2 separate regions of the Homo sapiens genome follow, and region 1 is linked to region 2. The links come from fine-mapping of genetic effects on gene expression. A gene starts in region 2. The other region holds a variant in brackets. All regions are shown on one strand. Distances are between the middles of the regions. Region 1 overlaps VMP1 (vacuole membrane protein 1). Region 2 holds the start of VMP1 (vacuole membrane protein 1).

Region 1 (5,380 bases), 120 kb before region 2:
GATCCTGTTCTAACTGAAGCCAACAACCGCCTCTTCTGCTGAAGAGACTGAATTTTACATTTAAGGCAATAGTAGGATACACTTTCAGGAATGAAATTAAAGCCCTTCCCTATCCTACTCCCATTACAAGCTGATCTGTTATATGTACAAAAGAGGAAAAGAGGGTGTGGGAGAAGATCAGCAACAAGACAGCCTAGCAATTCCCTTTCTCGGTAACAGTCTTGTAAATAATTCTCCATCTTCAGAAATGTGCACATTTTAGTCAAACATTATAGAGTTAAATTTTCCTTCCTACCCCCTAGGCAGTGATCTAAACAGGCTTAACGGCTAGTATTTTAATGAGTTGTCATTTCCTGTCTGATAAAGATTCTCACAGTATTTAACCACCAGTTTCCCTGGGGACCAACCAATACTAGAGCTCTATTCATAGTGACTCAGAATGGACCTCAGACTCTTGCCCTTATTCAAAAATGACAGATTGCCCTCCACATGAAACTGCCTTTCCTAGTAAGGTAGACTGCTCGGAAAAGGGTGGGGGAGTTTATCATGCAATCTTTCTGAAGAAGCCAAAGGCCATCATGCTGACTCATTAATATCTACAGCCTTTCAGCCCTTTATTAATCCAGAATAAGTAAATGAACAGGTGCTAACTGAAAATAAACACATATTTAACCTAGTAAAAAAGGATCTAGTTATCCTGTGTGACTGGAATGAAAGTGTTATTATCTTTACCATTTAACTGAATAGAACACATGAATCTTTTTGTTTTGTTTTGTTTTGTTTTTGGAGACGGAGTCTGGCTCTATCACCCACGATGGAGTGCAGTGGCGCAATCTCGGCTCACTGCAACCTTCACCTCCCGGCTTCAAGCGATTCTCCTGCCTCAACCCCCTGAGTAGCTGGGATTACAGGTAGGCACCACTACACCCTGCTAGTTTTTGTATTTTTAGTAGAGACAGGGTTTCACCATGTTGGTCAGGCTGGTCTCAAACTCCTGACCTTAAGTGATCCGCCTGCCTTGACCTCCCAAAATGCTGGGATTACAGGCATAAGCCTCTGTGCCTGGCTCAGTATATGAATCTTTGAAGCTGATACTATAAGAAAAAACTGGTAACTGATGTATTCTACTTGCTTTGGATCTGAAATGTGGTAGCCCCCTAATCATGTTTCTTTACATCCAGGATCTTGGAATGGCACCCCAACATAAAATAAATTCAGGATGAAAATCACACACTATACTAGAAAATCTAGGGCTTTCTCATATATACAAGTTTGGACTGACAGTCCCTGGCACCTTCTAAAATTCGTTGTGATTTGACCCCAGGATCTGGGATTAAAACATCTTGAATTTCATTCACATCTGTGCCCTTTCAAATGATTAAAACTTCTTTTGTACTTAAGTTAGTCCATTGTACGCAGAGTGGTATTATGAACACATGACACCATGGGTTTCTTTCTGGCTGTGTAGAAGGAAGACCATGCTTTCTCCAGGTGTATTTTATCAGGTACATTGTTTCTACTGCCTTACAGCATATTTTATCACAAAATAATCTGCAATTGCCCTAGCTTTTGGAGATTTAGCATTATTTTCTGTAAGAATCAGATTGGAGGTTAGACTTCCTTATCATTAGCAGCTACTCTTTGAAATAAGCTAACATTAAAGAGAAGCTCTAGAGAACAAAACCTCATTTCAGAAGGCAGACTTGAGCAGCAGGAGAAAAGCAGGCATTTGTGCTGATGAATGTGGCCAGAGCTAAAGGAGTGGTCTATAAGGACTAGGTAAAACTGATTGGTTGCCAAAACAAAACTCTGTTAAAAATCAACTGATTGCATTTATAGAAAATGACAGACTGGTGGCAGCTTTTTTTTTTTTTTTTAAAGAGGTTGTGTCTCTTGCCTCAGCCTCCCAAGTAGCTGGAACTACAGGCGAGTGGCACTGCACCTGGCCCCAGTGGCAGCTTTTTTTTGGGAACAGGATCTTGCTCTGTTGCCCACTCAAGAGTGCAATGGCACAAACACGACTCACTGCAGCCTTGACCTCCCGGGCTCAAGCAATCTTCCTGCCTCAACCTTCCGAGTAGCTGGGGCCACAGTAGCTAATTTTTAAATTTTTTTCAAGAGATGGGGTCTCACCATGTTGTCCAGGCTGGTCTCAAACTTCTGGGCTCAAGCAATCCCGCCTCAGCCTCCCAAAGTTCTAAGATTACAGGTGTGAGTGGGCCTGGTGGCAGCTTTTTATAGTGACAGATCTGCACTGGTTTGAAGACTCACTGAGTTCTAAAACTTAAAAATCAGGCCAGCACAGCGGCTCATGCCTGTAATCCCAGCACTTTGGGAGGCCGAGGCCTCCTGAGGTCAGGAGTTTGAGACCAGCCTGGCCAATATGGTGAAACCCCGACTCTAGTAAAAATACAAAAATTAGCTGGGGGTGGTGGTGCATGCCTGTAGTCTTAGCTGCTTGGGAGGCTGAGGCAGAAGAATTGCTTGAACCCAGGAGGCAGAGGTTGCAGTGAGCTGAGATCACGCCACTGCACTCCAGGCTGGGCGACAGAGCAAGACTTGGTCTCAAAAAACAAACAGACAAACAAAAAAACCAAAAAAGTGATAGTATTGGCAGGACACAGTGGCTCATGCCTGTAATCCCAGCATTTGGGGAGGCTGAGGCAGGAGGATCACTTGAGCACAGGAGTTCAAGATCAGCCTGGGCAACACAGCGAGACCCTGTCTCAAAAAAGAAAAAAAAAGTGACAGTATTGATTGAAATTCAATCTCACTTAAAAAAAAGTTATGATCTCTGTCCTCAAGGAACTCTATCTAGAAGGATGCTGGGAGAGGGGAAAAAATGCACTTAAATGTACACTACAGAAACCAGTAGGTTTTTCATTGAAAGTAACCACAGTAGTAACTAGCTACAGCTGCACACAGGTGGATGCACGTGTGCACAGGAGAATAGACAGAAT[T/G]CATGCTGCATCCCTACCAAATTCACACAGCAGCTGTTTGAAACTGGTGCTCTAGTCTAAATTTCCAACTTCCAGCAAATGACTTCACTGGCTTCCAGAGTGCTCCCTCAGGAGTGTCCCCCTTCTCTGCCTCAAAACATCTTGGAGTCTTCACTCCAGTTTTCAAGAAAGAACTGGTTCATGAGGATAATCAATCCACTCCAGAATTGATCCTATCTCAATCATCTCTTATCATTTATATGAATTTAACTTCTCTGTAATAGTACCTAACAGGTTTTGTTATGGATATGAAATGAATATTTATGTAAAGCATCTGGCACAGTGGGTGCTTACTGAATGTTAATTTCCTTCCCACATCCTTCCCTTTCTTCATTTATATTTTCTATCTCTAGCATTTTACTAGAGTTTTTCCCTCAGCCTAAAATACACACTGGTCCCTCCTATTTAATGAATGAATTAATTCATCTGGTCAACAAATATTTACAAAACAATTAAAATGTGTCAGACATGACTTTCGCTTGACCTTTCCTCTAGCCCACAATTCCATGTAATCCAATATATTTGGGTTTTAATTTTCATCATGCTACTAAAATGCTCCATTAAATGGTCAACGGTAACTTCCAAATACAATGTACCCATTTCTCATCTAACAGTCTAACTCCAGAACTCCTGTTTTAACCTTTATGTGGTCTCCCAATATCCATAACAAACATATAGAAAGGTTAACTGTCAAAAGAGAAGGATATATAAACTACCACGGACAAGAAGAGAAAGGGGTTTTCCCAAGCTGCAGAAAGAGGTTATGTTAGACTGTATAACTGAGTCTCGGCAGCTGGGGTTTAAACCCTGTGTTAAGCCTTAAATTCTATCCTTTCATCAGATAATACAAATGCTGGGGTTCCACACTTCCATAACTTTTTCTGATTATTTTCAATGATCAAAGTCAAAGAGAATCAAATACATGGACCATTTTATCCTCTAAAATGAAAGGACAGATTTTCTTTCTGTAGAAGAAAAAGTCCAGGCCCACGTAGCTCATTCTGACCACTTTCCATAGAGTGAGGGATAAGAAACAACATTCGGATTCAAGCACTTTATTACTCACTGGTTAAAATGATCTCTCTTGCCACAGGCAAGCCTGACTCTGAGGTCAAGCATCAAGTTAGCTCAGAAATAGGAGACAGCAAAGAAGAGCATGGAACATTCTGTATCTGGTAAAAAGTCCCTGTTCCAGCCAACACCATCCCCCAGCCCTCAAGTTCAATGATTGAGTTATGGAAACTTTTCTTGTGTGGTAAAACTGGGGACTTTGTCTTCCAATAAGACCCTGGCAACATGACAATGAGCCAATGTTCTGCATATGGTTTGCTGCGAGTCATATGCTTAATGTTATTTTCTGGGAATTCACATCCCCTATTTGGTGAGAATATGGGAACATGTCATTTTAATCATAACTTTAAAAGTTAGATTTGGTTATGCTCTTTAAGAAATATGCACAGGTCTCTCCCACTGGAGAAAGTCTAAAATTAAATAAAAATTAGTATTAAATCGTAATTAAAAAAACAAAAAGGGCTGGGCACGGTGGCTTATGCCTGTAATCCCAGCACTTTGGGATGCCAAGGCGGGTGGATCATGAGGTCAGGAGTTTGAGACCAGCCTAGCCAACATCGTGAAATCCTGTCTCTACTAAAGACACAAAAATTAGCCAGGCATGGTGGCAGGTGCCTGTAATCCCAGCTACTCGGGAGAATCGCTTGAACACAGGAGGCAGAGGTTGCAGTGGGTCGAGATTGCACCACAGCGCTCCAGCCTGGGCAATAGAACAAAACTCTGTCTCAAAAAAAAAAAAAAAAAAAAAAAAAAATCACAACTAACATAATGCCTTTTGAGCTAGAAGTTCCCTAGTTCTTTGGTTCTATCACCTGACTTTGGGTCTCGCCATGTTCGAGACCAGGCTGGACTCAAATTCCTGAGAATTCAACCAATCCATCTGCCTCGGCCTCCCAAAGTGCTGGGATTACAGGCGTGAGCCACCATGCCTAGCCAATTTTTTTTTTTTTTTTTTTTTTGAGACGGAGTCTTGCTCTGTCACCCAGGCTGGAGTGCAGTGGCGCAATCTCGGCTCACTACAATTTCCACCTCCTGGGTTCAAGAGATTCTCCCACCTCAGCCTCTTGAGTAGCTGGGACTACAGGCACCCATCACCACGCTTGGCTAATTTTTGTATTTTTAGTAGAGATGGGGTTTCACCATGTTGGCCAGGCTGGTCTTGAACTCCTGACCTCAGGTGATCCGCCCACCTCGGCCTCCCAAAGTGCTGGGATTACAGGCGTGGGCCACTGCGCCTGGTCCTTTTTTTTTTTTTTTTTTAGAAGGAGTCTCCCTCTGTCACTGAGGCTGGAGTGCACTGGCACGATCTT
Region 2 (5,380 bases):
ACCTTACAGTTCAGGTTCTAGCACTACCTAAGCCAGATGACCTCAAGCAAGCCAATTACTAATTACTGATTGTTTCTGAGCCTTAATTTTCTCCTCTGTTAAATGGGAATCTACTTATACATTCACAGAGATTCCTTCTAATTCTAAATATTGGTTTCAGTGAAATAATAATGTTTCTTTTTTTTTTGAGACGGAGTCTGGCTCTGTCTCCCAGGCTGGAGTGCAGTGGCGCAATCTCGGCTCACTGCAAGCTCCGCCTCCTGGGTTCGCGCCATTCTCCTGCCTCAGCCTCCGGAGTAGCTGGGATTACAGGCGCCTGCCACCACGCCCGGCTAATTTTTTGTATTTTTAGTAGAGACAGGGTTTCACTGTATTAGCCAGGATTGTCTCGATCGCCTGACCTCGTGATCCGCCCAACTCGGCCTCCCAAAGTGCTGGGATTACAAGCGTGAACCACCGCGCCCGGCCCAATAATAAGGTTTCTTATTTAATGTAAGTAAGATAGGACTACTTCTACTCTTTAGTTAACTATACGTAGGCAAAAAACTTCAGCTTTTTCTGCACTTGGAAGTTCTGAAGTGACAATACATGACGACCAAAAAGGATCAGATTTAAACTCCCGAATGCAAAACTATACTCATTTTCCAGGAACCTATTTATTAACCATGGTGACTAATTCAATGGATCACGGTATCAAACTATTCTTTGCTAACTTTCAAAGGTGGGGCAAAGATCATCTCAGAAAAGTATGTGATAATATTTTCAGATAATGATGCAAAGTAACAGTATTCTACACTGACATATCTCCAGTTCTAAGAGTAAAGTGATACCATATTTTCATATTTAATAATTTCATGTTTACTAGCTCATTTAATCTTTGTGACAGTTGTATGAAAGAAAGTGAGCAGAATTTTTATCAACACAATCTAGACCAGCTCAGAATGTTAGGTAACCTATCAGCCATTACTTAACAAGTGTTGGAGCCCAGACTTCAATCCAGGTCTTCTGATTTAAAGTTTAATAGTTACCAAAATCCTAAAAAGTGGTGATTCAAGCCAAAAGCGAGAAGTTGGAAAAGTGAGAAAAACTGGATAATCAGTCCTTCAATTGAACATAAAGAAGATAAGATCAGATTTGGCAGTTATATAATCAAGAAGCAAATTTACCGAATGTTAAACTAATGATACATCTATCATAATTCCATATCTCAAATTTTGTCACCTTGTTTCAAAGCCAAGCGTGAACAAATTTTCAAACTCAAAATAAGAAAAATATGTAAACTGACAAACTGATTTAACTAGCTATAGGTAAACTGGTAAAAGGCATCATGGTTCTATGTATATTTTCTTCTGGAATGTGACTCATAGAAATTAAACTGTATTAATCAATTGTAATCAAGTAGGATATATCCCTCAAAGGAAAAAAGTAACCTTCAGTGCCTTAAGATAATGTAGGCAAAGTAGTAAAATATAAAATTTCTACTCGAGAGAGTCACTTCATACCTACACAAATCAGTCACATTTGTCTAGGTACCACCATCCCTCTTCCACAGTAAAAACATAAGCTACAATGCATACAATGATGCCTAGTAAGTAAGTTTCTTCCTTTCATCATCTATGCTAAGAATACACAACTAAAATCAGAGCTAATGACAATACAATTACTAGGTAGTAGCAACTGGAATATTAAATTCTATCATGACAACACCAGAAACACTTGTACAAGCTTCTTCAAATGATCAATGTAATCTGTCCACAAAAATCTCTGACAAGCCCCAAAGTAGAAATGAAAGACGTTAACATTAGGATAAGGAGCGATGCTGCCAAAACACATCAACAGTGGCCAGTCTACGTGTATTATTAGATTTTTACATGGAGTTGCAGGTAAATAAAAGATGATTGTGTAAAATCTTCTGGAGGTCATAAGTAATCTAGCAGTGTGACACAGGGCCACATATGGTTTCTGGAATTTTAGAGATTAAGTCGACCTTCACGTTTTACTGCAAATACCTCCACTGTAATAAGATATAGAGGTCGGGGTTCAGGGGTTTGGAAAGGCAGACAACTCTTTTTCATTAAAGCAGTGAAAAATCTGAGAAGTTCCTCTCCAAGGGCTCTGCGGAGCGAAGGCCCATTCCCTTGGCTACCCTGTACCACCAGAGCTTTAGATGGCACTTGCACGCCTGGATTTCGTTTAGGAGCGAATACATCTAGCATCATGCGCCAGAGGTTCGGGAGAGCAAAAACCAAACTGACAGATCCTGAGAAATAGCTCAGTCATCAGCAGGGAAGACCTTCTCCACTTACTCCAAGGTCCTGGACATCCCGGGACTAAGAGGTTCTCTAAAGAAGCCTAGCAAGGCTTCCAAGTACGCGGAGAGGAGAACGAACAGCCCGGTGTCTGGGTTCAATGTCCGGGTGACCAACCATGAGAAGGTGTCCCAAATAACCTGGCTACCGCCAGCGTGAGACATCCAGGGTGAGACATCCAGTCAGCAGCGTCCTAAAACACTGCTGGAAGTCGGAATCACAGTGCCCCAGATCCGCAATGCCTAAGTGGGAGAGCTCCGGAAGACGCCAAGCTCTGAGGACAGCCTCAGGCTTCGGTCCCCAATTCCCTGAGTTAGTTTACCTACCCGCTCCGACCCCGGCTGCTCCGGATCTCAGGATCCTGGAAGCTGCTCCTTACGGACTCTCACACCCGCCGCTGGGCTCCAGACAACCGGAACCCGCTCACGTCACTTCCGGTCCGGTCCCTCTGCCCCCTGAGACAGCCTCCAGAAGGGATACGTTCCTCCCTCCTTTCGGCGAGCTCGGTTGATCCTCGCGGGATTTCAGTTAGGCTCTTAGTGCGGGCCCTGTGGGTGTGGCAAGAGGAAGAATGACTGCTCGCTTTGTGATTCTTGATCCGGAACTTGTCACCCAGGAACCCCGGAAGAGGTAGCTCACGCGATAGAAACGTGTTCGCTGCCCAGAAGAAGGGAAGGCGCGAGTGAGGAAAGGAGGTACTGTAGGTAGGTTGGTTGGCTCCTTACAGGGCGAAGGAGACCAATATCATTATTCATTTTCTCGCCAGTAGGAACGTTTCTTTTCACCTCGTTGCATTACCCACCTTCTTCATTTTCTCCTTTATAAACTGTCTTCCGCCCAGGGGCCGCTGAGCCCTCTGTTCCTGTTCTGCGAACCGTCCTTTGGAGGAAAGGAACAGGCTGCTGGGGAGGGGAAGACTCAGAATTTCTAGTTCCCAGCAAAGCCTCCAGGCAGGCAGTATCGATGCGCTCTCTCCGAAATTGATAAAATAGCGAGCAGGCCTCATACCCTCAGCTGGGCACTTATGAATATCCCCAGCGTTTCGAGCTGTCGAGCTCTGCGTGGAAAGAATTGGTTTCTAAGAATATAGTCGAAAATTTGGGGCCGGGCGCGGTGGCTGACGCCTGTAATCCCAGCACTTTGGGAGGCTGATGTGGGCGGATCACCTGAGGTCAGAAGTTCGAGACCATCCTGGCCAACATGGCGAAAACCCATCTATACTAAAAATACAAAAATTAGCCGGCGTGGTGGCGCGTGCCTGTAATCCCAGCTACTCGGGAGGCTGAGGCAGGAGAATGACTTGAACTCGGGAGGCGGAGGTTGCAGTGAGCCGATATCGCTCCATTGCTCTCCAGCCTGGGCGACAGAGTGAGACTTCGTCTCAGAAAAAAAAAAAAAAGAAAGAAAAAATTTCCCCCCTTTTTCACACAAAGAGATTAACTAGAGAGGTATTAATCCTTACTGACATACCCCAGGCACCATACTAGACTCTGGGAATATGTTATACAGGGAAAGTGGGGCAGTGGCTTAAGGGTCAGAGAAGATTTGGGAAAGGTTTGTTTGTTTTTTTCGGTTGTAAACTGCAGACCCGGCGCGGTGGCTCAGCCTGTAATCCAACACTTTGGGAGGCTGAGACAGGAGGATTGCTTGAGCCCAGGAGTTTGAGAACAGCCTGGGCCACATAGGGGGCCACATAGTGAGACCCTGTCTCTTAAAAAAAGATTAACGGGTGGAGCATGGTGCAGAAGGAGGTAATGGGATCAAGAGCACTACTGAAATGGGTTTACTGAGGCAGGGGAATTAGAAGGCACCAAGAAGAAGATTTTATAGGATGTACTTATTTTGTTCTGCTGTCATTGCCCAGAATTATTTATGAGACAAAGAATGGTTATTTGTTTTACCTTAGTCTTAGGCACTAGGCTTATTGATACGCTTGTCGTAAGTGTACAGAAAAAGAGACAGACATGTTGTTTTAGAGGAGTTAGATGATAATCTGATCAGATTAATATGAGATTAGAACATCCTAAAGAACAAAAATATGTGTTAATTTTAGCATTTTTATGATTAGACACTCCATTGAGATATGGGACATAATAAATAAACTTGGTAACTTTTGGAACTTTCACTGTCCTGTTTTTGATCTTATTGGGTTTTTTTTTTTTTTTGGAGACAGGGTTTTGCATTGTTGTCCAGCCTGGGGTGCAGTGGCACGATCATGGCTCACTGCAATTTCCACCTCCCAGCCTGAGGTGTCCTCCTACCTTATCCCCTGAGTAGCTGGGAGTATGGGCATGTGGCACCACATCTGGCTAATTATTTAAATTTTTTGTAAAGATGAGGTCTCACTGGGTTGCCCAGATTGGTTTTGAACTGGACTCGAGATGCTGCTGCCTCGACCTCAAGCAACTCCTTGAGGCCAGGAGTTCCAGACCAGCCTGGGCAACATAGCAAGACCAAGTCCATACAAAAATAAAAAATTTTTAAAAAATCAGGAGGGTGTGGTGGCATGCACCTGTAGTCCCATCTACTTGGAAGGCTGAGGTAGGAGAATTGCTTAAGCCCAGGAGTTTGAGGCTGTAGCGAGCTATGATCATGCCACTGAACTCTAGCCTGGGTGACAGAGGGAGACCCCTTCTCTTTAAAAAAAAATAAAGAAAAAGGCAACTTCTCTGTTTGATCCTCATATTTCTCATCTTTAAAATGAGGCTAATATATCTTCCTTTTTATGTGTTCATAGCAACAATAAATGAGGTAATGGATATAAAGGATTTAGTATGTTATCCAGCACATAATAGCTTCTCTATGTAGAGCAGTTCCTTCTCCAGATAGTACCGGAATGTAGTGTATGGGATATTTGGTTACTTTGCAGCCTAGAAATTATTTCAGAGAATCCTAATTGCTGACATTGCATATTTGTTCAGTTTGGAGTCTGGTTGTTAGATTATCAAAGAAAAGTCCTGCTGATATGTAAGCATCAAATAGAAACTTGGCCAGGCATGGTGGCCCATGCCTGTATCCCAGCACTTTGGGAGGCTGAGGCAGGCAGATCACTTGAGGTCAGGAGTTCGAGA

What was found. PIP is the estimated chance that this variant, and not a neighbour inherited with it, causes the effect.
Region 1: its variant is the best candidate, but not a certain one, in a credible set for the expression of VMP1 in whole blood (TOPMed, PIP 0.67).

What each region holds. Positions count from the first base shown.
Region 1 is chr17:59,824,522-59,829,901 of GRCh38, reverse strand. All of the region lies in intron 10 of VMP1 (vacuole membrane protein 1), which reads right to left. Among named protein-coding and RNA genes, the nearest start is that of MIR21, 14 kb to the left of the region's middle. RefSeq lists an enhancer at 1-123. The variant T/G (reference allele first, on the strand shown) is at 2,961.
Region 2 is chr17:59,705,004-59,710,383 of GRCh38, reverse strand. It overlaps VMP1 (vacuole membrane protein 1), which reads right to left and starts at 2,730. Exons shown (of 12, transcript NM_030938.5): 1 at 2,636-2,730. It overlaps PTRH2 (peptidyl-tRNA hydrolase 2), which reads left to right and starts at 2,954. Exons shown (of 2, transcript NM_016077.5): 1 at 2,954-3,013. RefSeq lists enhancers at 2,625-2,684, 2,485-3,140.